Regions from separate parts of the Homo sapiens genome. Here all the other regions are linked to region 1. The links come from fine-mapping of genetic effects on gene expression. A gene starts in region 1. Each other region holds a variant in brackets. All regions are shown on one strand. Distances are between the middles of the regions. Region 1 holds the start of HPS5 (HPS5 biogenesis of lysosomal organelles complex 2 subunit 2). Region 2 overlaps GTF2H1 (general transcription factor IIH subunit 1). Region 3 has its middle 8.4 kb from the start of SAA1.

Evidence for each region.
Region 2: its variant is fine-mapped to the expression of HPS5 in whole blood (TOPMed, PIP above 0.99).
Region 3: its variant is fine-mapped to the expression of HPS5 in skeletal muscle (FUSION, PIP 0.95).

What each region holds. Positions count from the first base shown.
Region 1 is chr11:18,318,084-18,326,360 of GRCh38, reverse strand. It overlaps HPS5 (HPS5 biogenesis of lysosomal organelles complex 2 subunit 2), which reads left to right and starts at 4,221. Exons shown (of 23, transcript NM_181507.2): 1 at 4,221-4,415. It overlaps GTF2H1 (general transcription factor IIH subunit 1), which reads right to left and starts at 3,794. Exons shown (of 15, transcript NM_005316.4): 1 at 3,621-3,794. RefSeq lists enhancers at 3,817-4,236, 4,247-4,546, 3,437-4,636, 3,774-4,723.
Region 2 is chr11:18,354,234-18,362,233 of GRCh38, reverse strand. It overlaps GTF2H1 (general transcription factor IIH subunit 1), which reads right to left. Exons shown (of 15, transcript NM_005316.4): 12 at 4,192-4,282; 13 at 3,594-3,709; 14 at 1,527-1,619. Among named protein-coding and RNA genes, the nearest start is that of MIR3159, 30 kb to the left of the region's middle. The variant TC/C (reference allele first, on the strand shown) is at 4,387.
Region 3 is chr11:18,253,712-18,261,988 of GRCh38, reverse strand. It overlaps the pseudogene ST13P5. Among named protein-coding and RNA genes, the nearest start is that of SAA1, 8.4 kb to the left of the region's middle. The variant AG/G (reference allele first, on the strand shown) is at 4,428.

The sequences.
Region 1 (8,277 bases):
TGGTAGAGATGGGGTTTCGCCATGTTGGCCAGGCTGGTCTCAAACTCCTGACCTCGGGTGATCTGCCTGCCTCAGCCTCCCAAAGTGCTGGGATTACAGGCGTGAGCCACCACGCCCAGCCATAACCTCTTATATATAACATATAAAACCATTTATATCAAAATTCATTTATGGGGAAATTTAAAAAATAAATCTGAGATAAATTACCGAACATTGGGCACAAATGGTCAATTGTCTCACAGCTAATTTGCCTGGTAAATTTTCCTGGTCATCTGTAGCACCTCTTAATTGTTCAAGGACCAATTTCAGGAGGTTTAACAGAATCACTGTAGCTATCTTACAATGCCTTCTGTGATTTCCAGGTTTTTCTTGAGTGTATTCCTTGAGTGGCAAACACTTCTTCCCAGGAGAACTCTATAAGAGCCATAGAAATTTATGAAAGTTATTGGTGTAGGCTACATTTAAACAGATCAGGTCAATGAAGATCTCGCTTTACTAAAAGACTATTTACTTATGAAATGGTCTAAGACTTCCTTAAATAGCAAGATCTATATTAAAGGCATTAATTTATTTGCAGTTAAAAATGTATTTGTCCGAATCTAAATTCATATACCTTGCTCTGAGCCTTTGTACATTCTCTTCCTTTCCCATCAACTGGCTAACTTTCACTCATTTTTTTTTTCAGTCTATGTTAAGCTTCAAAGTTACCAGCTAAAGTCTCCTATTATTTTCTTCATGGCACTTACAACAACATAATTTTTAATGTGATTCTTTTAATGTACACGTCTCCTGACAGATTGCAAGCTTCATAAGGGAGGGCAGAGGCCATATATGTCGGGTTCTCTGTAATATAGCACCCAGTAATATAGTGTTTGGCCTATAAGAAGAGTCCAAGAAGTATCAATGACATCATTTAAGATCTTGCTGTTAAAAGAATACAATCTCTTGCTAAGACATAATAAGGAATCTTTGCATATACATCTTTGCCTAAACTCCGGGAACCACTATAGTTTTCAATTCACAGATCAATGTACCATTTCTCATACAGATTCTAATAACTGGATCTTGCTCTTAAAAGGCAACAGTGATAAGGAAGAATATGAACTGGTTGAATACAAATCTTTACATTACTGCACCTCTGCATTTCCATTACCTACATCCCCTTTTCCAATGTGCAAGAGATAAATGGAGGAGAGGAGATAGGGAGCAACAAGTGAAAGAGAAATCTTCTGAAAGAAGGATTACTAGAGAGCACTGTTATATCTGCCAGCATACAAAAATGGAGATTTGGAATGCTGCTTGCCATCAAGCAATCCAAAAGTGTTTGAACAATTCAGCATTAAAGGGAATAACTTTATAAGTATGTAAAGAGTGACCAAAATGTACTGTTTTAAGGATAATTTCACAGACAAGGAAGATATTAAGGAGAATAACTGATGTGGCAATTTTAGGACTGAGCACTTGTACATTTTACAGCAGTGCAGGGAAGAGGCAGGAGGAAAATGCGACAGAGATGCATGACAGAAGAAAATATGCTCATATCCATTAATAAATACTGCATGCTGACAAGAGTATATTACCAAAATTGAGAGAAGAGTAATCAGTTGGTAATCAAAGTGGTGAAAAGAGGAACTACTAGGTCAATGGCTGATACTGCCACACTGAAGGCAGGAAAGAGAAAGGAAGGGCACAAAGACATCTCTATCAGCAGTATGCATAAGGCAGAGATAAATGGTGGCCAAAATGCTAGGAAAGCTCAAGGTATGCCAGACAACATTCTGATGGTAGGGAATAAAATAGCACAGAGAAGCAGGTTATCAGAGGGCAGGACACATGGTACCAGCAGGGAGAAGTTACAAGCCTTGAGGGCAGTACACACAGGAAGCATTCACAACCCAGGACTGGTGCTGGTCGCTGGCTTCACTACTTTTAACTGATTCTTCTCCCACACTGCACCAAGTTTCCTAGTATTTTTCAAAAGCCCTCTCTGAATTTGCTTTGATTTTTTTTCACATTTGTACTGCAATGTGTATTTTATATCACCTAAGAGAGACTCAAACTTACCAATCTGTTGCACTGCTACAAGTCGGCTGAATGGCCTGGTCAACATGGTGAAACCCCGTCTCTACCAAAAATACAAAAATTAGCCAGGCATGGTGGCGTGCGCCTGTGATCCCAGCCGCTGGGGAGGCTGAGGCAGGAGAAGCCCTTGAACCCGGTAGATGGAGGTTGCAGTGAGCAGAGATCGCGCCATTGCACTCCAGCCTGGGCAACAAGAGCAAAACTCCGTCTCAAAAAAAAAAAAAAATGTCGGCTGAGTGAGGATAGCAGACCATCTCTTTTTTCTCCTTTCTGAATGAGGGACTTAAGCCTGCTAACAGGTACAAAGTTCTCTCCAGAGTTTAGTCCTTCTCTAAGTCCAAGGCCTGCTACTAGAGGTTACCTTCCCTGCGGTTGTGACCTCTCCATCTCAACTGCTCTGGTTTTGTCTTTTAAAAAATCTTAAGGTTGGCAACTTTGGCTTAATTACCTAAGTCCAGTTCAGTGGTTTTCAAACTGTGTTCCAAGGAGTGGCCTCTAGGATAGAAGTTAAGTGGGGTGGTGGGGCCTGGCCCTTTTAAATTTAGTTCCACCAGAGCATGCTGCTTTATATATTGGGTTCCAGATAAAAATTCATGGGGAGAAATTGTTCCACTCCTTTAAAATGTTTGAAAATCACAAGTCTGGATATTGGTTTGTATGGAGTCAATACTCACTGCAAAGCACATTTCATTCAAACCACTCAGTTTTTTTTTTGTTTTTGTTTTTAAGACTGGGTCTTCAAATGGACAAAGGGTGTATTTTTCATATCTTCTTTCCCCATCCCCATTTTACTGATGCTAAAATTGGAGTTTAGGAGTCATTTGGGGCCAGGCACTGTAGCATAATTCTGGCGCTTTGGGAGGTCTAGGCAGGAGAATCGCTTGAGCCCAGGAATTCGAGGTTACAGTGAGCTATTATCACGCCACTGCATTCCAGCCAGGACGACAGAACAAGACTCTGTCTCTTAAAAAAAAATAAGAAAAGTCACCTCCTTATTTAATTTGGCCTTTGAGAACACTGGGGGATTTACAAAATAATTACATATATCCAGGTACTCATGGTCTATTTTTCATCATTACACGACAATCAAATGACCAAAACTAGGAGTGTGTGGACTGGCACGTGTTAAGGTTTTTAAGAGAGGTAAGATTGACAGGTGGAAGCAAAAGGTGTGCAGACAACAAGGTGACAGCTTTTCTCTTACAGAATCCCAGACTCAACAGCACATTTCCTGACGGGAAGGGCTTCTCTGTCTGGGAGAGGCCTCCACTTCATTCTCATAAGCCAAATCTGATCCTGGCTTTGGGTAAACCTGCTCTCAATTTAAGAGCAGGTTTCCTTTAGACAAGTAGATTAGGGGTCGCCTCTTCCTCGCCTCGGGATAAGGGCAAACAAGACGCCAGGCTTGGGCGTTGGGAGGACGGCGACAGCGACGCTGGGAACAGGGGTAGAATCCACGCCGTCCAGCGGCCCCCAGGCCTGTCAGCTCCTCACCCGCCCACCCACCCGCCCGCCTGCATTCTTCGGTCTAAACTTACCAGGTGGAAGCTACAACTCTAGACAGGAAGTAACTAACTGGGTTGGATCCGGTCGAGTTCCGCTGCGCTTCTTAGAGCCGCTGCTGGGAAGAGGCCGAAACCCAGTGGCCGCAGCAGTAGCCACCGCCTCTGTTACTAGGGGGTCTCGCCTCCATCGCTGGCTGCGAGGAGTCTGAGGGCACGTGACCGGAAGTAGCAAGGCGGGCCCTGGGCACGTGACTCAAGAGCGCGGCCGCCATGACACCTTCCGCTAGTTCCCTCCCTCCCCCACGGGTTCCCGCCTGTTTCGTTTCCTCTCTCCGGTCTCGAGCGGCGAAGGGTCCTGGGATCCTGGCTGGCCCAACCATTTGGCCTAGAGCTCCTCCGGTTCCAGTCGGCGCCGTGTCTCCAGCCCGCAACGGCCCTGCGGTCGCAGGCCGTAGAGAGCGTAATCGCGACCGCGGCCTGAGGGGGAGGGACCACGCGGAAGGAGGGGCGTGACTCGTCACGTGATGAGGAAGTGCCGTTAGTAGCGTTGTTTCCAGTCTGCGGCTCTCCTGGATGACGTCAGCAAGGAAGGGGAGGAACGCGAGGGGAGACTGAAGTTCACGTTCCGCTCTTAGTGCGCGGTGAGTTCCCCGGCGCTAAGCCGGGAGACAAGATCCGATCTACTGAGAGCTGCGAGGTACTGCCCTGGATGTGGTGGAGCTGGGCTGGGACCTCCGGGCTGCTGGTCTGTGAGCCTGGCTTTGAAAATTGGTTACTGGGTCTCCTCTCAAGAAATCTCAAGATATTAAAGTTACTGCTGTTAAAAAGGTAGTAGTTCCACTAGGCAAGGAGCTTTTTGTGGGTAGGGATTGTGTTTTGTTCATCCCTGTGTCTCTAGCGGTGTGTTCAGGTCCTGGAACATAGTAGGCACTCAGAATGTTGAATGAATGAATGTATAAATGAGTCAGTCGCCATTTGTCTGAGGCAGAGAGTTGTTTTCTGATCATTTCTTCTTGGATAGAAAGATCCCATTGTGAAAATGAGGCAGTCTGCAACTTCCCCTTCTCATTTCTTCAATTTTTGCTATCTTTCTTACTTCTTTCTCCTCTTCCTCCACGCACCTACTGGGGCAAAAGAGAAACATGTTTGCATTTGATGTGTGAGCAACAAACACTGAACTATTTTACGATAATGGAAAGATGAGATTTGGATTCAGGAGACGCGTATTCTAATCTCAGCTCTACCATTTATGAACTCTGTGATCCTTGGGCAAGCCAGTCTCCCAAAAGTTGTTTCATTTACTTTGGTTAAGCATTTGTCGCCAACTTCTATGTTCTTAGTTTTTGGTAGAGTGCCTTCACAGAAGTAACATTTAAACTCAGCTTTGCAGAAAGGTAGGGTTTTGGTAAATGGGGGAAGATTCCATAAACATCATATATTAAACCATGGAGGCACAGCAAGTTTATGGAATGAAAAAGAAAAAAAGAGTCGAGTCCAATGTAGTTGGAGAATAGAGAGGTTAAGATGGGAAATAAGGCTGGAAAAAGAAGCAGGGAGGAGATAACAGATTTTCAAGAAATAGAGCTGTTGAAGGCTTGTACAATATTATGTATATATTTTTTAAATTTTATTGTGGAAAATTTCAAACGCAGACAAAAGTAGGATAATAAATTGAACCCTCATGTACACTTAACGCAACTTGAACAATTATCAGCATTCTGCTGTTCCTCTTTATACTGTTTGTACATTTCTAGGTACTTTTTATATCCATTGTTGCATTTGATTAATAGCAGCTTTCAATTTGAGCTCAGTTCTACTGTATGTAGCTACTGGCTAAGAAGATTTTATTTATGTAAACAATTTCTTTGGGTTTTAGTTGACCACTTGCTCTGTTGAATCAATGTGTAACATGGCCACTTAAACACAACTAATACTGTTTTTAGGTTGTAATATAGAAACTTAGTGTCTAGATCCAGGAAGTTAGTGTTTCTACTCTATTCTGGGCTCATCTAACTACTTAAGGAGTATTATGCTCAGTTCTAGGCACCTCATTTTTAGGCAAACTACAGTGCCTCTGTAGAAGGTTGACTGGAACAGAGGGTTGGAAAATGTCATGTCAGGAGTGATGAAGAAACTGGGAATGTTAAATTTTTAGAAGACCTGATAATGCTTTTCAAATACAGAAGGATTGTTTTGGAAAGAGACAGCTTGTTCCCTTCAGCTGTAGAAGCTACATACAATTAGGAATAATGGTAGAGCTCTAAGTGATCAGGCTTCAGCATAGTATTAAAAAGAACCTTATAATAGTGAGCCCTTTGGAGGACTGGAATTGGCAGCTTCATGAGAGTGAGTGCTTTCTTTCCATGGCTGAAAATGTTCAGGGATCTAGGGCAAAACTAATTTCTGAATTAGGTGGACATGTTCACTGAATTACCTATGAATCTTTTTCCATCTTGAGAATTCTAGGAAGTAGGGCTCATGTGCGATCTTGAAAGCTGGGTATGTTTGGATAAGAAAATCTGGAAGGGAAGCAGTCATTTCAGGGAGAGTAAACATAAAGTATAAAGTTGAAGTTGGTTTAACACTGTCATTCAGCAGCTTCTCTGAGAATTGGCATTGCTTATGCTGTTTTTATTTTCCATTCTCATTTCTGTTAAATTCTTTTTTTCTTTTCAGTAGAACTTACTAGGTGTGTCCCCCTGCACACCCCCGCATTATATTATAACTTCCAGGACATTCTCTTTTTACCGAGATTAAGGCAAAATGACCTACTCAGAGTTTCTTTGTTTCAAGATCACAAGTAGAAGAGACACTATGATATTATCATTCCTTTCCATCTCTTGGATCCTGTACCATGGTTTTATCTTTTTCTTGAATCTTCAGTCCCTTTCGTTCTAGACTCTACTTTTAGCTACTACCTACAAATCTGTTGAAGAGTCTCCCCAATAATAACGTCAAGAGAGGTTTTCTCCTTTTCCACCAGACTTCTTGAGTAATTGAAATGTTTTATCCTCATTTTCATATCACCCACCCGTTTTCTCAAGTCTTTGTTTTCTAGCATCTAACCACCCACAGCACTTTACAGAAATTGTGTGACCTCCCAACACACAATTCTTCAATTCCTTTCTGTTGCCTGCCAAGTTAAGTTCAGGTTCTTTGGTTTGAAATTCAAAGTGTTTTGTAACTTGGGCCCAAATTAAGATTCCAGCTTTATCTTTCATTATTCCGTTGCTTGTATCCTGTTTCAACCAAAGACTAAATTTGTATTCTTCTAGTATATTCTGCATTTTTTTCTTCTCTATATATTTGCTTATTGCTACCCTACCTGCTACCCTTTCCCTTTTCCTTGAGATAAAAGCCTAGTCAGCATCAGTACTACTTTCCTTAGAGCGTTTTCTTCAGTTCCCTTTAATTCAATGTGATCCCTCTGTCCTGTAAAGTTCTAACAAAGCAGTTTGCTTATGTTTCCCTTATAAGATGTGTGTGTGTGTGTGTGTGTGTGTGTGTGTGTGTGTGTGGTATTTGTCTTTTCCTCCGTATTATAAACTGACTGACTTCTGGAATTATTTTACTTGTCTTATTTTTACCACTGTGCCTGGTACTTTACTAGGTACTCAATGAAATGAATGAGTGAAAACAATGAGGGAAGATTTTCTTAGGTCAATAATTCTCAAATATTTTGAGTACAGGCATGTGAAAGTTTCTTTCTGGGTTTTTTCTTTTTTTTTTTCCTGAACATTCTCCTTGCAGAGGTCAAGGTGTATTAGGAACAGTGTTACTAGCAGAAAATAAGATTGTGTTATGTGTGTGCAATAAAAAATATAGTCTTCGTTTTGCCACTAGAAAGTATGCTCTATGAGGGTTAGAACTTTATCATCTCCAGGACCTAGAATAATGTCTGGCACGTAGGTGGGTGCTCAGTACAAATTTGTTGAATAAATGAGTGATGGAATATATATGTTTCTGGAAAAAAAGTCAAAAACGTAAAGCATGAACAAACAACAAGAATGTATAAACAGTTCATGACTTTTTCTGTTGTATTCATTGGCTTTCTAAATTTGGCAGGTAACAAGTGATTGAGAAAAGTTATAATTAATGAGTAGAATTTTCTTTTCTTTTTTTCTGGAGATTGGTGCAAGTTGACAAAAAAGTGCATTTGAGAGTAGGTGAACACATAAAAACTTTCGTGTTACTTTACAAAGTCCTCACTGGTTATTTGGCATTTGTTACCTTGTATTCTTATCCGTATTCTGTCCTATCTAGTCTCTTTTGTTGAAGCGCTTATTTTTCTTTGTGCTCTAATTCCCTGTACCTTCTCACTTAGTAGATCTGTTCATTCATTCACCATACTTACTAAGCCCCTGCTCGGTTGAAGAGAGAAGTCTAGTGGCCTATTCCTATAAACCACTGTTAAATTGTTAGCTGATAACTGTAGGGTTTGCTGATAACAGTTAATAAGTTGAGGCCTTTACAGAAGATTGCGTTTTAATGAGAGACTCCTAAAGACAGAAGATTTAGTATTCATAGAAATGCAGCAGCAAGGTTGCTGTTTTAACTCAGGGTGATATGCCAATTTTCCTAAATCCTACTCTACCTATTCTGTTTACTCACACTGTTAGATAATACAGGGGGATAGGCTTATGGAGGGCCCTGAGAATCCGTACCTGCTACTCTGGGAGTTTTAGAGTCA
Region 2 (8,000 bases), 36 kb before region 1:
TTTCTATGTTTAGATACACACATACCATTGTGTTAAAACTGTTTACAGTATTTAGTACAGTACTATGCTGTACAGGTTTGTAGCCTAGGAGCAACAGGCTACACCATATAGCCTAGAAGTATAGTAGGCTATATAGCTAGGTTTTAAGTACACTCTGTGAGGTTCATACAACAAAACTGTCTGTCAATGAATTGTTTAGAACACATCCCTGTGGTTAAGCAACACGTGACTGTACTATTCTTTCCAAGGTACCTCTGGGAGGGCTTGTATAACTGCACATACAAATGATCTGATGTGGTTGCTCTAACCTTGTTTTAAATACAATGCTAAAAATGCTGGGCATAAAGTGACACTTCTCAATACCTCATCCACTGACTTTCCCCACTGTAAACAATCAGGGAAGCTGATGCCAAATAGAACCCAGGAACAGTTTTGCTTACTATGAGTAGTGGCAATTCTATCTTTCCTTACGCTGCTAGGTTTGTGCTTGCTACTCAGTTTTTCCAAATTAATAAATTAGTAATATGTATTTTTCAGAACATACACATAGATTGTAAAACTTTTTGAGACAGAGTCTCACTGTGTCACCCAGGCTGGAGTGCGGTGGCATGACCTCGGCTCACCGCAACCCCTGTCTCCCAGGTTCAAGCAATTCTCCTGTCTCAGCCTCCCGAGTAGCTGGGACTACAGGCATGCGCCACCATGCCAGGCTAATTTTTGTATTTTTAGTAGAGACAGGGTTTCGCCATGTTGGCCAGAACTGGTCTCGGAACTCCTGACCTCAAGTGATCAGCCTGCCTTGGCCTCTCAATGTGCTGGGATTACAGGCATGAGCCACCGCACCCGGCCAGATTGTAAAACTTTTCTAAGGGAAAGCATGGAGATGGTTATCACAAATGCTTTGGTTAGTCATGACCTCTGGAGGGGAAGAGAGAGTGGTATGCAACTGGACAGGGGCACTCAGGGAATATCTATGGGTTATGGCAACATTCTACTAATTTTCCTGATTGGTGAGTAAACAGACAGTTATTTTATTATTTAAAAAATATGTATGTATTTTATATACTTCTGAATGCATGACACATTTCAATATTAAAAAACAGTACTTTGAGCAACAGAAAATAAAGTATTGGCCGGGTGCAGTGGCTCATGCCTGTAATCCTAGCACTTTGGGAGGCCAAGGTGGGCTGATTACCTGAGGTCGAGTTTGAGACCAGCCTGGCCAACATGGTGAAACCCCGTCTCTACTAAAATACAAAAATTAGCTGGGCGTGGCAGCATGCGCTTGTAATCTCAGCTACTCAGAAGGCTGAGGCAGGAGAATCGCTTGAACCCAGGAGGTAGAGGTTGCAGTGAGCTGAGATGGAGCCACTGTACTCCAGCCTGGGCGACAGAGTGAGACTCCGTTTCAAAAAAAAAAAAAAAAGAAAATTAAGTATCTACTCATTTACATGAAAGCAAAATCAATTTCATCATTTTACTACAAAGAGAAAGAAGATCAGGCAAAAATCAGATTGCTGCCTTACATTTGTGCTTAAATACTGTCTCCGAATCTTTTCTTGGAATGGACAGAGCTTCGTAACTTGGAATCGTTCCAAATTACTTTTCATTTTCACTACCTAAAAAAGATGAGAAACAATAAATTACAGAGAAATCTCAAGCTGTAGAGACCAACAGAAAAACAATCTTCTACATATGAAAGTTACTTTTCTTGTAGAATTTTTTTAAATGTAAAAATAAAATAAAAATATACCAATTATATCACATTGTTAACCCTTCAATGTGAATATCTTTCAGTCATAAATACTCATTTGGCCAGACGTGGTGGCTCACGCCTGTAATCCCAGCACTTTGGGAGGCCGAGGTGGGCGGAACACAAGGACAAGAGATTGAGACCATCCTGGCTAACATGGTGAAACCCCGTCTCCGCTAAAAATACAAAAATTAGCTGGGCGTGGTGGCACACGCCTGTAGTCCCAGCTACTCAGGAGGCTGAGGCAGGAAAATTGGTTGAACCCAGGAGGTGGAGGCTGCAGTGAACTGAGATCACACCACTGCACTCCAGCCTGCCGACAGAGTGAGACTCCATCTCAAAAAACAAAAACAACAAAAAATCCCAACTCATTTAAATAGTCACTCATTCATTTATTCATTCATTTAGAGACAGGGTCTCATTCTGTCACCCAGGCTGGAGTGCAGTGGCAACATCATGGCTCACTGCAGCTTTGACCTCTCTAGGCTCAGGTGATCACCTGAGCTACTTTTCATAATTTTTGTAGAGACGGAGTTCTGCCATGTTGCCCAAGTTGGTCTCAAACTCCTGAGCTCAAGCGATCTGCCTGCCTTGGCCTCCCAAAGTGCCCGGTTTAGTGGCTCATGCCTGTAGTCCCAGCTACTAGAGAGGCTGAGGTGGGAGAATCACCTCAGCCCAGAAGGTAGCGGCTGCAGTGAGCAGAGATCACTCCACTGCACTCCAGCCTGGGTGACAGCGTGAGACCCTGACTCAATAAATAAAATAAAATAAAATAATTATTGTCTTTCAACGTATGAATATACCAAATGCTTCTCTAACCAACCCCCTTCTGGTAGATATTTAGGCCATTTCCTCTATCTTAGAGAGTGGTAGACCATCTCTAGCTAAGTATTTGCATTCCTAATTATTTCCTAAATTTCTAAATGTTGAATTTCATTTGAAGTTTCATTTGAATGCTGAAGTAAAAGCATCTAAAAAAACACTAGCAGTGGAAGAAAGGACTCTTGGCTACTTGGTCAACATTGATCATTTTAAGATTTTTGTTCTTCTGCAAATTAGTAGGTGAAAAAAATATTCTTTTAAAAAATTTATTTATGTATTTTTTGGAGACAGAGTCTTGCTATGTTGTCCAGGCTGGTCTCCAACTCCTGGGCTCAAACAATTCTCCCGCCTCAGCCCCGCCAAAGTGTTGGGATTACAGGTGTGAGCCACCGTGCTTGGCCAAAATGTTCTTTTACTGTAGCTGTAATTTATCTGCATACTGGTAAGTGTGAGCATTTCCCCTTAATCTTCCTAGGCCACTCCATTCTTTAGTGAGTTGCTTGTAAAGTGTTTGCCTATTGTGCTTAATGAGGTCTTTATCTTTTACTTAATCATAGTTTATGAAAGCAATTTATAGTATTACTATTAATGTTACATTTTTCATTTGTCAACTGTCCTTTAATTGGTTAAAGCGGTTTTAGTGTTAAAAAGCTAGTGCTATATTTGTTGTCAGTTCTTATTTTGGATTTTGTTATCCCTGAAAAACGTATCAAATATAAATAACTTTATTGATGTAATTTGTTTTGGGTCTCTATTCACAGTGGCTTGGAGGTAGATACAAGTTTTAAGTTGTATGATTATTAGTTATGGAACTCGTCTGGATCTCAGTTTCCAAATCTATAAAATGGGTACCAATAGCTACTCCATAAAGATGCTGTGAGGTTTACATGAAACGATGTATGCAAAAGAGTTATCCCAGTGTCTGTCACATGGTAAGACTCAATAAAACTTTCCAATTTCAAAACTTCTTGTAAGTCACTACCACAATTATCTGGCTGTCTTCAGAACTGGTTCTAACCTTTTCTTCTAGGAATGGCGTATTAACAGGAAAGCAGGACCAGAAATGTCGTAGAAGTTCTCCAACAGCTACATATAAGTGTTTCAATTCAGATTGAATATCATTTGGCACCATCTCTGCAAAAGAAGAACAAGGCCCATAGGTTAAGAGCTATTTTAACATATACAGTCTCGAAAAAAATGACCACTCAGAGAATAAATTTGAATGTGTACTCTTTGTCAATGCCAAACCAGGATGTGCTATTTTCAGATAAGTTAGTAATTTTGTGGCTGAGAGATCATAAAATTTAAAAGCTCTTGGGATTTCAAAGAAACTTTCAGGTTTCCCCTTTATTCTAAGAGGTAGGGGAGAAGAAAGGAGCTTTTACTATGATATTAGAGAAACTAGCAATGTACCACTATTTGTAATAGTAAGACGGTTCTGAAACCTAAGATCTTGTCTAGATGTGTTTCAGAATCTGAATGTATAAAAACAAATCTACAAAATAGAAATCCCAGGATTATTCCAAGGAAAAACCAATAAAAGTTCAGCACTCCTCCCAGCTTGCTTTTTAAAGCTGATTTAGGCAGAAAGTAGTAGAAGATGGCCCGGCACATACGGTTTATGGCTTGCTGTGTTCCTCCCTGCATAAGTGCCCCTCCAGGTGACAGTGCTGTGATGGTACTACTGGCAGCACTACTTGAGAGAACCTGAAAAAAATGAAGATGCATTAAAACTGGTTTTCCTCCCTTTTTTTTTTTTGCCACCTCTCTTTCTTAACATTTTAGTTTTAGAGCAGACAATGAAGTGCTTT[TC/C]CTTTTGTTTAAATACTACATCATTTACAGTGGTCAAAGTGAACTATTTTCCTTGAGGGCAGAAACACAATCCGTGTAGAAAGAAGATACCTACAAATCTCCCAGGCATGCCAGGCAAGTCCACAGGGACCTCAAAACTCCCAAGGTTTTGCCTAGTTAAAGCCCTTTCTTAAGTACCAATTCAATTTAATATGAGAACTCTTACCACTGAAGGTAAAATTGAGTTTAAGGAAAGAAAACAGGTAAAACAACATGTTAACCTGTATCCTTTGTTTCTGTTAAATTTATTTTTCTAAGAAACAAAATCTTGTTATGTTGCCCAGGCTGAACTTGAACTCCTGGGCTCAAGCAATCCTCCTCCCTCAGCCTCCTGAGTAGCTGGGACAGACTACAGGTGTGTACTCCGCACCTGGCTTTGCTAACATATACCCTTGATAACAGAGTGGGGGAAAAAAAAATAAAGAGCAGAAATTTATTAACTGTCATTTAATTTTCAAGGAAGTGAATAAATATAGCCAAAAGGGGGAAAAATATACTCCCCACTGTATCAACATCAACATTTAGGAAAAAATTGACCTATCTATTCGATGAGTGCCTATCAAGTGCCAGGTACTGTAGGGAGGCACTGCTATAGGGAGGAACAAATAATTTGTGAAACAGCAAGTGCAGGGTTAGCATCTCTAAGATTTTCCAATGAAGTTTTTATGAGTAGAAATCCATCCATGTATAGATTGGATGAAAACATTTTTTCAACTTAGTGTAAAAGTACAGTATGGGACAACCATGAGTGAAGGGGACATTGGAGCTCACTTTATTCCTATTTTCCTTTTGTCAGATACCAGCCTGGGCAATATGGTGAAACCCTGTCTCTACAAAAAATACAAAAAAATTAGTTGGGCATGGTGGTGCATGCCTGTAGTCCTAGCTACTTGGGAGGCTGAGATGAGAAGATCATTTGAGCCTGGGGAAGTTGAGGCTGCAGTGAGCTGAGATGGTGTCACTGCACTCCAGCCTGGGCAACAAAGCAAGACCCTGACTGCAAAAAAAAAAAAAAAAAAACAAAGATTGACTACAGTGTAAAAAAATTACATGGGGAGAGCTGGGCATGGTGGCTTACAATTATAATCCTAGTGACTCAGGAGGCTGAGGTGGGAGCATCGCCTGAGCCCAGGAGTTCAAGGTTGCAGTAAGCTATGATAGTGCTACTGCACTCCAGTCTGGGTGACAGAAACCTCACCTCTAAATCAAACAAACACCACCACCCCCAAGACAAAAGTTATGTGGGTCTACTCGGGCCCAAGGGCCAGATACTGGACAACTATAGTCTACATTGAAAGAATTGGTCAAATAATCCCAGGTTGGTTATGTGTGCATTTATGTACACATATGTATTTTCTAGCTTTCTGCTGAAGGGACAATGACACCCCAATGTATACCTAGTGCCCAGATTTTTTTTTTTTTTTTTTTTTGAGACAGAGTCTCACTCTATTGCCCAGGCTGGAGTGCAGTGGTGCGATCTCGGCTCACTGCAACCTCCGCCTCCCAGGCTCAAGCAATTCTTCTGCCTCAGCCTCCCGAGTAGCTGAGACTACAGGTACGCACCACCATACCCAGTTAATTTTTGTATTTTTGGTAGAGACGGGGTTTTGCCATGTTGGCCAGGGTGGTCTAGAGCTCTCAAGTGATCTGCGTGCCTCGGCCTCCCAAAGTGCTGGGACTATAGGTGTGAGTCACTGTGCCCGGTCCCAGATCTTGGTTCCTACCTTGATCCACTCAGTGCTAAAAAGAAAATTCCACGCCTGGGACAGGGCAGATGTAAGATAAGCCTGGAACATCTATCTTACTATACCATTCAGTAAGGAGGGGCTAAGAATGACGGGGATATTGTCAGAAAGACACAGGAGAGCCTGTGTGAAGTGGGTAGGAAGGGTTTGACTGTAAAGGGGCATGGGTAGACTTTCTGGGGTGACAGAACCGGTTTTTTAAAATCTTGATTTTGTTGGTGGCTACACAACAGCATGTGTTTATCAAAACTTGTAGAATAGCAGACTTAAAAAGATAAATTTCATTTTGGGAGGCTGAGGCAGGTGGATCGCTTGAGCTCAGGAGTTCGAGACCAGCCTGGGCAACGTGGTGAAACCCTGTCTACACACAAAAATATAAAAATTAGCCAGGGATGGTGACACATGCCTGGAGTCCCAGCTACTTAGTTACTTGGAGGGCTGAGGTGAGAGGATTGCTTGAACCTGGGAAGTCAAGGCTGCAGTGAGCCGAGATTGTGCCACTACACTCCAGCCTGGGGGACAAAGTGAGACCCTGTCTCGAAATAAATAAATAAATAAGTAAATTTATTTATTTATTTTACTGTATGTTAAGTTGTACCTTGGTTAATAAAAAGAAAAAAGGCTGGGCGTGGTGGCTCACGCCTGTAATCCCAGCACTTTGGGAGGCTGAGGCGGGTGGATCACGAGGTCAGGAGATCGAGACCATCCTGGCTAACACGGTGAAACCCCGTTGCTACTAAAAATACAAAAAAATTAGCCAGGCGTGGTGGCGGGCGCCTATAGTCCCAGCTACTCCAGAGGCTGAGGCAGGAGAATGGCGTGAACCTGGGAGGCGGAGCTTGCAGTGAGTGGGGATCATGCCACTGCACTCCAGCCTGGGCAACAGAGCAAGACTCCGTCTCACAAAATAAAAATAAAAAAAAAATAAAGAAAAATTAAAAAAATTTTAAAAAAAAGGAAAAAGAAAAAAACGGCCTGTAATCTCAGCACTTTGGGAGGCCGAGGCGAGTGGATTGCTTGAGCTCAGGAGTTAAAGACCAGCCTGGGCAACATGGCAAAACCCTGTCTCTACCAAAAATACAAAAACTTTGCCAGGCATGGTGGTGAGTGCCTGTGGTTTCAGCTACTTGGGGGGCTGAGGTGGGAGGATCGCTTGAGCCAGGGAGGTGGAGGTTGCAGTGGGCCGAGATCATGCCACTGCACTTCAGCCTGGGTGACAGAGTGAGACCCCATCTCAAAAACAAAAACAAAAACAAAAAGAAACAAAGAAAAAAAGATAGCAACAGTGTTTAACTCATAAATGAATCCATGCTGATATAAATAACAAACAGAGGAGAAGGGAATGCTCTTCCTTTCATGTCAGCTGATATACATAGAAGGGCTGATGGAATTAGAAAATCATCATTTAACAACTGCTCTTCCAGGCAAGAATCATCAGTGATTCTAAAAAAACTACCAGATGTAAGTTTGTTGTGTGGTGACACATGCCTATAATCCCAGCTACTCAGAAGGCTGAGGCAGGAGGATTGCTTGAGTCTAGGAGTCTGAGGTTGAACGGAGCTATGACTGTGCCACTGCACTACAGCCTGGGCATCAGAGCAAGACCCTGTCTCTAAAGATAATAATATTAAAAAATAAAAATAAAAAATTTGGTGACAAATGGGGTATTTATATAGTCTCAAAGTACAGCTCCACAAGATATGTATTAATTACAAAGGGAAAAATAGTTAACTTTTTGGTGGAGAAACCAGGCAAATACTACCTTTAACCAAGTGAAAAAATTTAATATCACAAGCTAGGATATATACAAATCATTTGCCTCCTGATAT
Region 3 (8,277 bases), 64 kb after region 1:
GGTCCATGGTAGGGAGGTGGTGGGTGAAGCTGGGGGCTGCGGCCCAGTTCCAGGCCCAGGTGCTGGCTCGGCATGACCGCGCAGAAGGGGGCGGCTGCCGCGAGTGAACATGGACATTGTTAATATGCAATAAAATCTCAGCCTACTTGAAATGTTTACATTAATTGTCAAAAAACATATTCAGAAGGCAAACCCTTATCATCTCTCCGCTGCTCCCAGAGAGATGTTATTAGGCATCACCTTCTGGGTTATGATGGCTTCTTAACTGGCTTCCACATTTCCCCCTTTGCCGCCAACTAGTCTCTTTTCAGTATAGCAGCCAGACTGTTACAACACAAGACAACTTCTATCACTCTCCATTCAAAACTCTCCGGAGGATTCCACTTCCACTCATAGTTGAAGTCAAAGCCCTTATAATGGTTTTCAAACTTTACTCAAACTGTCCTAACTCCTTCCTCTCGTACCTCATCATCCAATTCTCTCCTCCTGCTCATTTTGCTCTGGCCACACTGGTCTCCAAACCCCCAGGCACATCTTACCCTAGGGGCCTCGGATTAGCTGTTCCTTTCCTCTGGAACATTCTTTTCCCAGATATTTGCATATCAGGGCTTTGAGGGGGCCTTGATCCGGGAATGCAGGATACTGGAAGGTTCAACAATACAGTTATTGTCAATAAGAGTATTGGCAGTGAATGTGTTGGAAAGAGGGCCGTAAATGAACTGTGAAAATTTTCCATGAAGATGGGAGAGGACTGGAGAGTTTTGTCAATGAATACAATAAAGAGGTACTTTGTCTCCAAACATCACTAAGCAGATTGTCTACACAGAAGCTTCTAGTGGGTATTTCTAGGCTGGGCACGGTGGCTCACACCTGTAATCCCAACACTTTTGGGGGCGGAGGCGGAGGATGGGTTAAGGTCAGGAGTTTGAGACCAGCCCGAGCAACATAGTGAGACTCCATTTCTACAAAAAATTAACAATTAGCTGGGCATGGTGGCACACTCCTGTTGTCCTCACTACTTGGGAGGCTGAGGCAGGAAGATCACTTGAGCCCAGGAGTTTGAGGTTACAATGAGCTATGATTCCACCATTGCACTCTAGCCTGGCAACAGAGCGAGACTCTTGTCTCAAAAAAAAAAAAAAAATGCAGATTCCTAAGCCATAATCTTGGAGGTCTTGGTCTCAGTTCAGCGAGTTGGGGGTGATCTTCAGGAATCAGTGTTTGAAAATCTTCCTGTTTGGAAATCACTTGTGCAGATAACATTAGTAAGACTGGAGAGAAGGTGGTAATGAATTTATCAGGGACTTCAAAGAGGACACATCACAGAGGTGAAGAATGGAGAAATGGTCATGGAAAGCAAAGAGGACGAGGACCCCTCTTTCTCATTCTATTGTCTAGGAGGAATTGCAGGAGGCATACCCCATGGGTAAAGATGAGAATAAAGTGAAATCAACATGGGAAAGGCAGGTTTCAAGTTTTTGTAATGGGAAGGAAATAGGCAGAGATAAAGGGGCATCCTCACCGCAGACCCTTCTTTCGAGGAGCTCACTGGAAGGTAGTAGAAGAAGGGTGGGCAGAGTGTTGGGAGAGTTGAGGCTGACTCATAGAGAAATTAGTTGGTGTGACGTGAAAGCAGGGAGATGAGAAGAGTAAAGGGCATGGCAGTTGAGCGTGCTGGTTAGTGACAGCAGATTGGGATTCTTTATTGCTTCCGGGCTCAGTGTGGGGTGCTGTGCTATGGGGGGCTGATACTTATGAGCCAGTGGAACTACTCCCCAAAGGTCAAGTGGACTAAAATAAAAACAGTGAGGATGCCTTTCTGATCTTCTCCCAACCATGCTGAAGTCCTGAAGAGAATGGAAGTTAGCAGAAAGTTCTGGAGAGAATGAAGGGACAAGGGAGGAGGGGAAGGAAACAGTGGCTAGTGAAGGTAGGCAAGGAGTACTCTCAACACATGCTTAATATGAAACATTTATCAGCAAGAAACTAGTTTTTAAAGCTGACACACAGCATTCAAACTTGGAGGCCACAGGCCTCACAGGGCAGGTCTTCTACTTTTTGAGATCTCTAATTACTGGATCCAAACTTTCTCCCTGGGAAAGGGTAATTTGTTTTTGTATGAATTCATCTTTTATAGAGTCACAGCCAGTCCCTTCTTTCTAACATGTACACCACATCTCCTAGGCACGACTGTCTTTTGCTCATTAAGAAAAAACTCTGCCTCCAAACTCCTATCAGATGGAGAAGCTGCAGAGAAGATAAATGGCTTATTCAAGGACCAGAACCCAGGACACTCATGATACCTTGGCCAGTGCTCTTTCTTCTCCACCTCCTTGCCTCCATCCCTTAACAAATGTTCTTTTCTGGGAACTTGGACACCCCTTGAAAAGATGAGGAGTGGTTTATGGTAATTCCAGGTTGGATTATTTGGTTTGGGAGAATGCCATTGGTCACAGCAATCTCAGCTCCTGGCAGCAGAAACCTGAACTTTGTCTCTATTCCATTTTGCCATGGTTATCTCTAACAGAAAGTCCTGTTATGCAACACCAGAATACCTTCCCAGTAGAGGTTGTGACACTGAGTTCCCATTACAGATCCTAAAACCCAGCCACCTAGACTTGGAGGCAGTATGGCTGCAAGTTAAGAGCCAAGCCCTGGTTTCAGACAGACCTGGTATGACCTTGCCTCTGCCATATACTGATATTGTGGAAGAGCACTTAATGACCTGGAGAAGTATCTCTTAAGGGAAAGAGTGCAATAGAATATGATCCCATTTTTGTTCAAAGACATGTTCCCATGGTGAAACACAACCTAGGAAGTTTTACATCTGTGTTTCTAGGTAGTGCCAACAGCTTGTGTTATTCTAGATTTTTAGAATTTTTTACAATGACATGTCCATTTATTTATTGATTCATCATCAGTCATTATCCATTCACGCATCGAGTGCCTTCTATGCAGCAGATACTACAATAGATATTGGGCATACAATGAGGGGAGATGGCGGCTAACCAGGTCTAGGCTGTGCCTCCATGAAAAAGAGACTTATACTTGGGGAAAAATGATTATACATGTGTAGACATAAAGCTTATACTTATAATAAATCAGTAAGATTCCAATAAATAAATGGGAAAAATATGTGTACAAAAAGTATAATGAAAGAAAAGAGAAAGCAAGGGGTATCACTAATCATTCTAAGATTGTTTCTCCTTAAGAACAACAGTCCCCAGGTACTAATATCATTGCTCATTCCTACCATCTCTTATTAAAATAAATAAAATAAGAAATGGCTCAGCTGTCAAAAGGTCTCCTGCCACTTTACAGAAGTAAAGCCAGGCCATGGGCTATGGATTACCAGGAGGGCAGGAGAAAAGATTCCCTCCTGTTTCTTCCACTTAGCAAGTGAATCACCAGGAACACAAAAGGACCAACTATTTAATTCAGGGGCGGACTCTTTTTCTTTTTCTTTTTCTTTTTTTTTTTGAGATGGAGTCTCGCTCTGTCGCCCAGGCTGGAGTGCAGTGGCGCGATCTCGGCTCACTGCAAGCTCCACCTCCCGGGTTCACACCATTCTCCTGCCTCAGCCTCCCGAGTAGCTGGGACCACAGGCGCCCGCCACCACGCCCGGCTAATTTTTTTGTATTTTTAGTAGAGACAGGGTTTCACTGTGTTAGCCAGGATGGTCTTGATCTCCTGACCTCGTGATCCACCCGCCTCGGCCTCCCAAAGTGCTGGGATTACAGGCGTGAGCCCCTGCGCCCCGCTGAGGGGTGGACTCTTAATTGTGTTTGCTGTGTGTCGCTTCTCACAAAGCCCACACTCTCTCATGGAGAGAGAACCCTTTTCTCCTGGCTCAGAGTTTCCAAGTTGCATTCTCTAGGCACCAGAATCCAAACCTGTCTGCATTGAGTTCTGCGTCTCTTCCCCTATAGGTTGTTGGCTGAGGCTCACGCCTCCCTGAAGCCTGCTGGCCTCTAAGTGATGACTGAATCAGGTTATGAAGGACTCGCAGCGGGGGCATGTTGGGATTTGGTCATCAGCCCACTGTCGGCAACAGCAAGAGCCACTCTCAGAGTCTGAAACTGGTATTGCCAAAGGACAACAGAACTCTGCATTCTGTTTAAAAATATTGCACTTTATTCCTTTTCAAACATTTGCAAAAGGGAGTAATAAATTATAGGCGGGTGGATCACCTGAGGTCAGGAGTTCCAGACAAGCCTGGCCAACATGGTGAACCCCATCTCTACTAAAAATACAAAACATTAGCTTGGCGTTGTGGCAGGTCCCTGTAATCCCAGCTACTTGGGAGGCTGAGGCAGGAAAATCGCTTGAACCTGGGAGGTGGAGGTTGTAGTGAGCTGAGGTCACGCCATTGCACTCCAGCCTAGGCAACAACAGTGAAACTCCGTCTGAAAAAAAAAAAAAAAAAA[AG/G]ACATCTCAAAACCCCAAATCTCTTATGGACTTGTATAGTATTTATGAAACTAAGAACTCATTTGAGAAGGGGAAAATTCCAATAATTCTTCTTAAATTTCGTTTCAATTTCAAGTAATTTATAGGTATGTCTTAGGAATCATCATTAAACCTTCTGTACCAGTTAGGCTATTCAAATATCTACATCTTTAAACACGTATAGCAATTTTGAAAAATAGAGAAGTTTTTCAGTTTAGATGAACAATAAAATATTTTGTCAAAAAGACTCCTTTTCCTTTTACATTCATTGTCAGGAAAATCCAGCATAGGAAATTTACTGCTTATGGTTGAACAACATCAAATTTGTAGATTTACCAGAGAGCCTGTCTCAATCTGATTAGTTAGCAAAACAGGGAGTCCTGTTTAGTTCTCCTAAACATTTTGTAACTCCCTGATTTCTCTTGCCTTCAGAGAGATGTGATTTACAACACAGTGGTTCAATAAACAAAAAGTAATTTCAGGTCCAAGTAATTTGCCTTCCAGTTTCCCATTAATTAAAGATGATTCTCTGCCTAGATGGAGAATCAAGAGACCTTGACACATAGTCTTTTTCCATAACCCTAGCAGTGTATCTTCCTGGTCAGACCTGCTGGGTGGGCACACTTCCCAGACACAGGGCTCTCCACCTCTCTGGAGCCCCCAACCTTATTTGGGAGCTCAGGCTCACTACATTTATGCCCAGGTATGGGGAACTCACAGCCAGGAGACCTAAGCCCAGCAGATCTTGCAAGGGGAACAGGGGTACATACCACTCATAGACAGACTGAGGATAAGGATGACTTAAGCCCCTGCTTGGCATACCTTTCCTTCTTGGCACATAGATGTGTTCACCTCCAAGCCTGGCACAACTGGGAAAGGCCTGGAATTACTAGGCATTAGGACCAGTGGAAGGTTTCAGAGTCAAGGAAGAATTGAGCTTATGGCCTCCTGTAGTCCAGCTGGCTATAACGTGTCCCAGATCTGTTCCCTAACTTCCACCAGGACTGCCCATTTCCCCAACTCTAATGTGGGAATTTTTTTTTTTTTTTTTGAGACAGAGTCTCGTTTTGTCCCCCAGGCTGGAGTGCAGTGGCGCGATCTAGGCTCACTGCAAGTTCTGCCTCCCGGGTTCACACCATTCTCCTGCCTCAGCCTCCCGAGTAGCTGGGACTACAGGCGCCCACCATGACGCCCGGCTAATTTTTTTGTATTTTTAGTAGAGACGGGGTTTCACCATGTTAGCCAAGATGGTCTCGATCTCCTGACCTCGTGATCCACCCGCCTTGGCCTCCCAAAGTGCTGGGATTACAGGCGTGAGCCACCGTGTTCGACCTAATGTGGGATTCTTTAGACTGGTGGGGAGTCATTAGGGAAGGAAATGCTTTGTGTTTGCTCAGACATTCATTCCAACCCCATCCCATCTCCAATGAGAGACTTGTAAGCTCCAAATCCTGACTTTCCTTAATGCCTCAGGTCCAACGCCCTATCTGCCTCTCTACTAGCACTCCCGCTTTGCTGCCTCAAGATGCTTCCCTCCCATTGATGATGTGTGGGTATTTCTGTTGTTGTTTTTTCATGTCTTTTTCCATCTTTTTTTCTTTTTCTTTTTGTTTTTTTGGAGACAGGGTCTCACTCTGTCACCCAAGCTGGAGTGCAGTGGTGTAGTCTCAGCTCACAGCAGCCTCGATCTCCCAGGCTCAAGCAATCCTCCCACCTCAGACTCTCAAGTAGTTAGGACCACAGGCATGAGCCACCACGCCTGCCCCAATATACATATATATATACATATATACATATATATATACATATATACATATATATATACACACATATATACACATATATACATATATATACACACACACACACACACATATATATATATTCAACATCTTTGGCTTTCTCTTCTCCTTGAAATATTTTTAGTAAGATTTCTGATCTGGGCATGGTGGCTCATGCCTGTAATTGCAGCAGTTTGGGAGGCCAAGGCAGGAGGATCACTTGAGCCCAGGAGTTCAAGACCAGCCTTGGCAACATAACAAGACCCTGTATCTACAAAAAAAATAAGAAAACTAGCCAGGCATGGTGGTGTGTGCCTGTAGTCCCAGCTACTCGGGAGGTTGAGATGAGAGAACTGCTTGAGCCCAGGAGTTTGAGGCTGCAGTGAGTCATGATCACACCACTGTACTCCAGCCTGGGCAACAGAGTGAGACCCTATCTGTTTTGTTTTTACCTTAGAATATAGATTTTATTATTAGTTAGGTATGGCAAGGCCAACAGCTCAGGAGATGACTGCCATTGAGAAGATAGCCTCACAGTTCCCAAAAGAAGAGAGTGAACTATGCCACAGGGGACTGCACCAGGAAGTAAGTGGGTAAGTCAGGGAGCAGAGGAAGTAGGGGAGGTGTAGGAAGAGTCCTTACTGTGTTTCTGCAGGAAGGAATGGTGTGGCAGCATACACAGGTTTAGGATTGGCTAGCATGAATAATTTCAATGGGTGCAGGGGCATGGAGGCTGTCCCTAGTTGTTTGGGACGTGGTCCTTGAGTGATTAGGGCAGGTGGATGGTGCCCCAGGATGTGAGAGCTCGATAAAGGAGGTGGGTGGGAGTGTGGACTCTTGATTGGTTGGTCTGCACATGGAAGGCATGCTCCCAGGAGAGTCATTTACTGTGTCTAGGACTTGACTAGCTCTGAGAGAAATGGTCCCTTAGGGTCAGCAAGGGCCCAGATGCCAAGCACCAAAAACACAAAATGAAAGGACATGATTAATACAACTTGCGAGGCACCGTTGGCATGGCTCAAGCATTCTGCTTAGATAAGCCAGGCTGTCTGAGAGTCTTGCCAGTGCATGTCTCACCCTTGGCCGACATAGTTTCCCTGGTCACCCTTGCAAGTTGGCTTCCCTACTTAAAACACCTCCAGTCTCCATCCAGTCTCCCACTCCACAATTCCCACCAGGAGAGCAGTCCTCACTAAGTCCTCCATAACCTGCCTGCATCCATCCTGGGACATTTCATTCCTATGACTGCCCCCAGTGTGTCCCATCTGCTGTTCACACTCCTCTTTCCCAGGTGCCTGCTTCACACCTCATGCAACACTCCTGTTGCCTGGTGGTCTGAAGCACATGCGCATGGCTTGTCCTGGCACAGGTAGGGTAGGATCTGATGTCCACGGGCCCTCAGCATCTCCACCACATCTCATGAACCATTCCTTCCCTAGGTGCAGATCAACATCACTCCGACATTCCCTGTGGGATGGCGGGGTGGGGTACACTCACTTCTCCGTGGATCACCATTGGCAAACTTTATGCTTAGCGCTTTACAGGAAATGGTTTCATTCAGGCTGGGAGTAAGGAGGCTCTTCAAAGCTGGGCAGCCCTACTTTCCTGGCGCCCACTTTGGACATAACTGCTACTGCAAACAACTCTCGCTTCTTCTGCCCCCGAGACACCCTCTGCCCCAAAGACTGTGGCAGGGGTCACAGTGGTCTCCCCACTTGTGGCAGATCCCATGATCCCCCATCTCAGAGACCAGTACATGTCCCCTGTTCGCTCATGTCAGGGAAAAACTCTCTCAAACCGTGTATTCCCTCTGCCCTCAAACAGCAATGATCGTCAACACAGAAGACCTCCGTAACCAAAGGTGTGGGTTTTTCCCCCCACACACCAAGCAGCAGACACCAGGAGTGTCCTCCAATGCAGTTCCAACACTACCTACCTGGAGACAGTGTCAGATCCCACAGGTTGGGGGCTCAGTCCCCAAGACCTCCCCCTCTTTCTCCCCAGTTGCAAGTCTGGGCCTCTGGAACTTCTGACTGACTGGCTTCAAGTT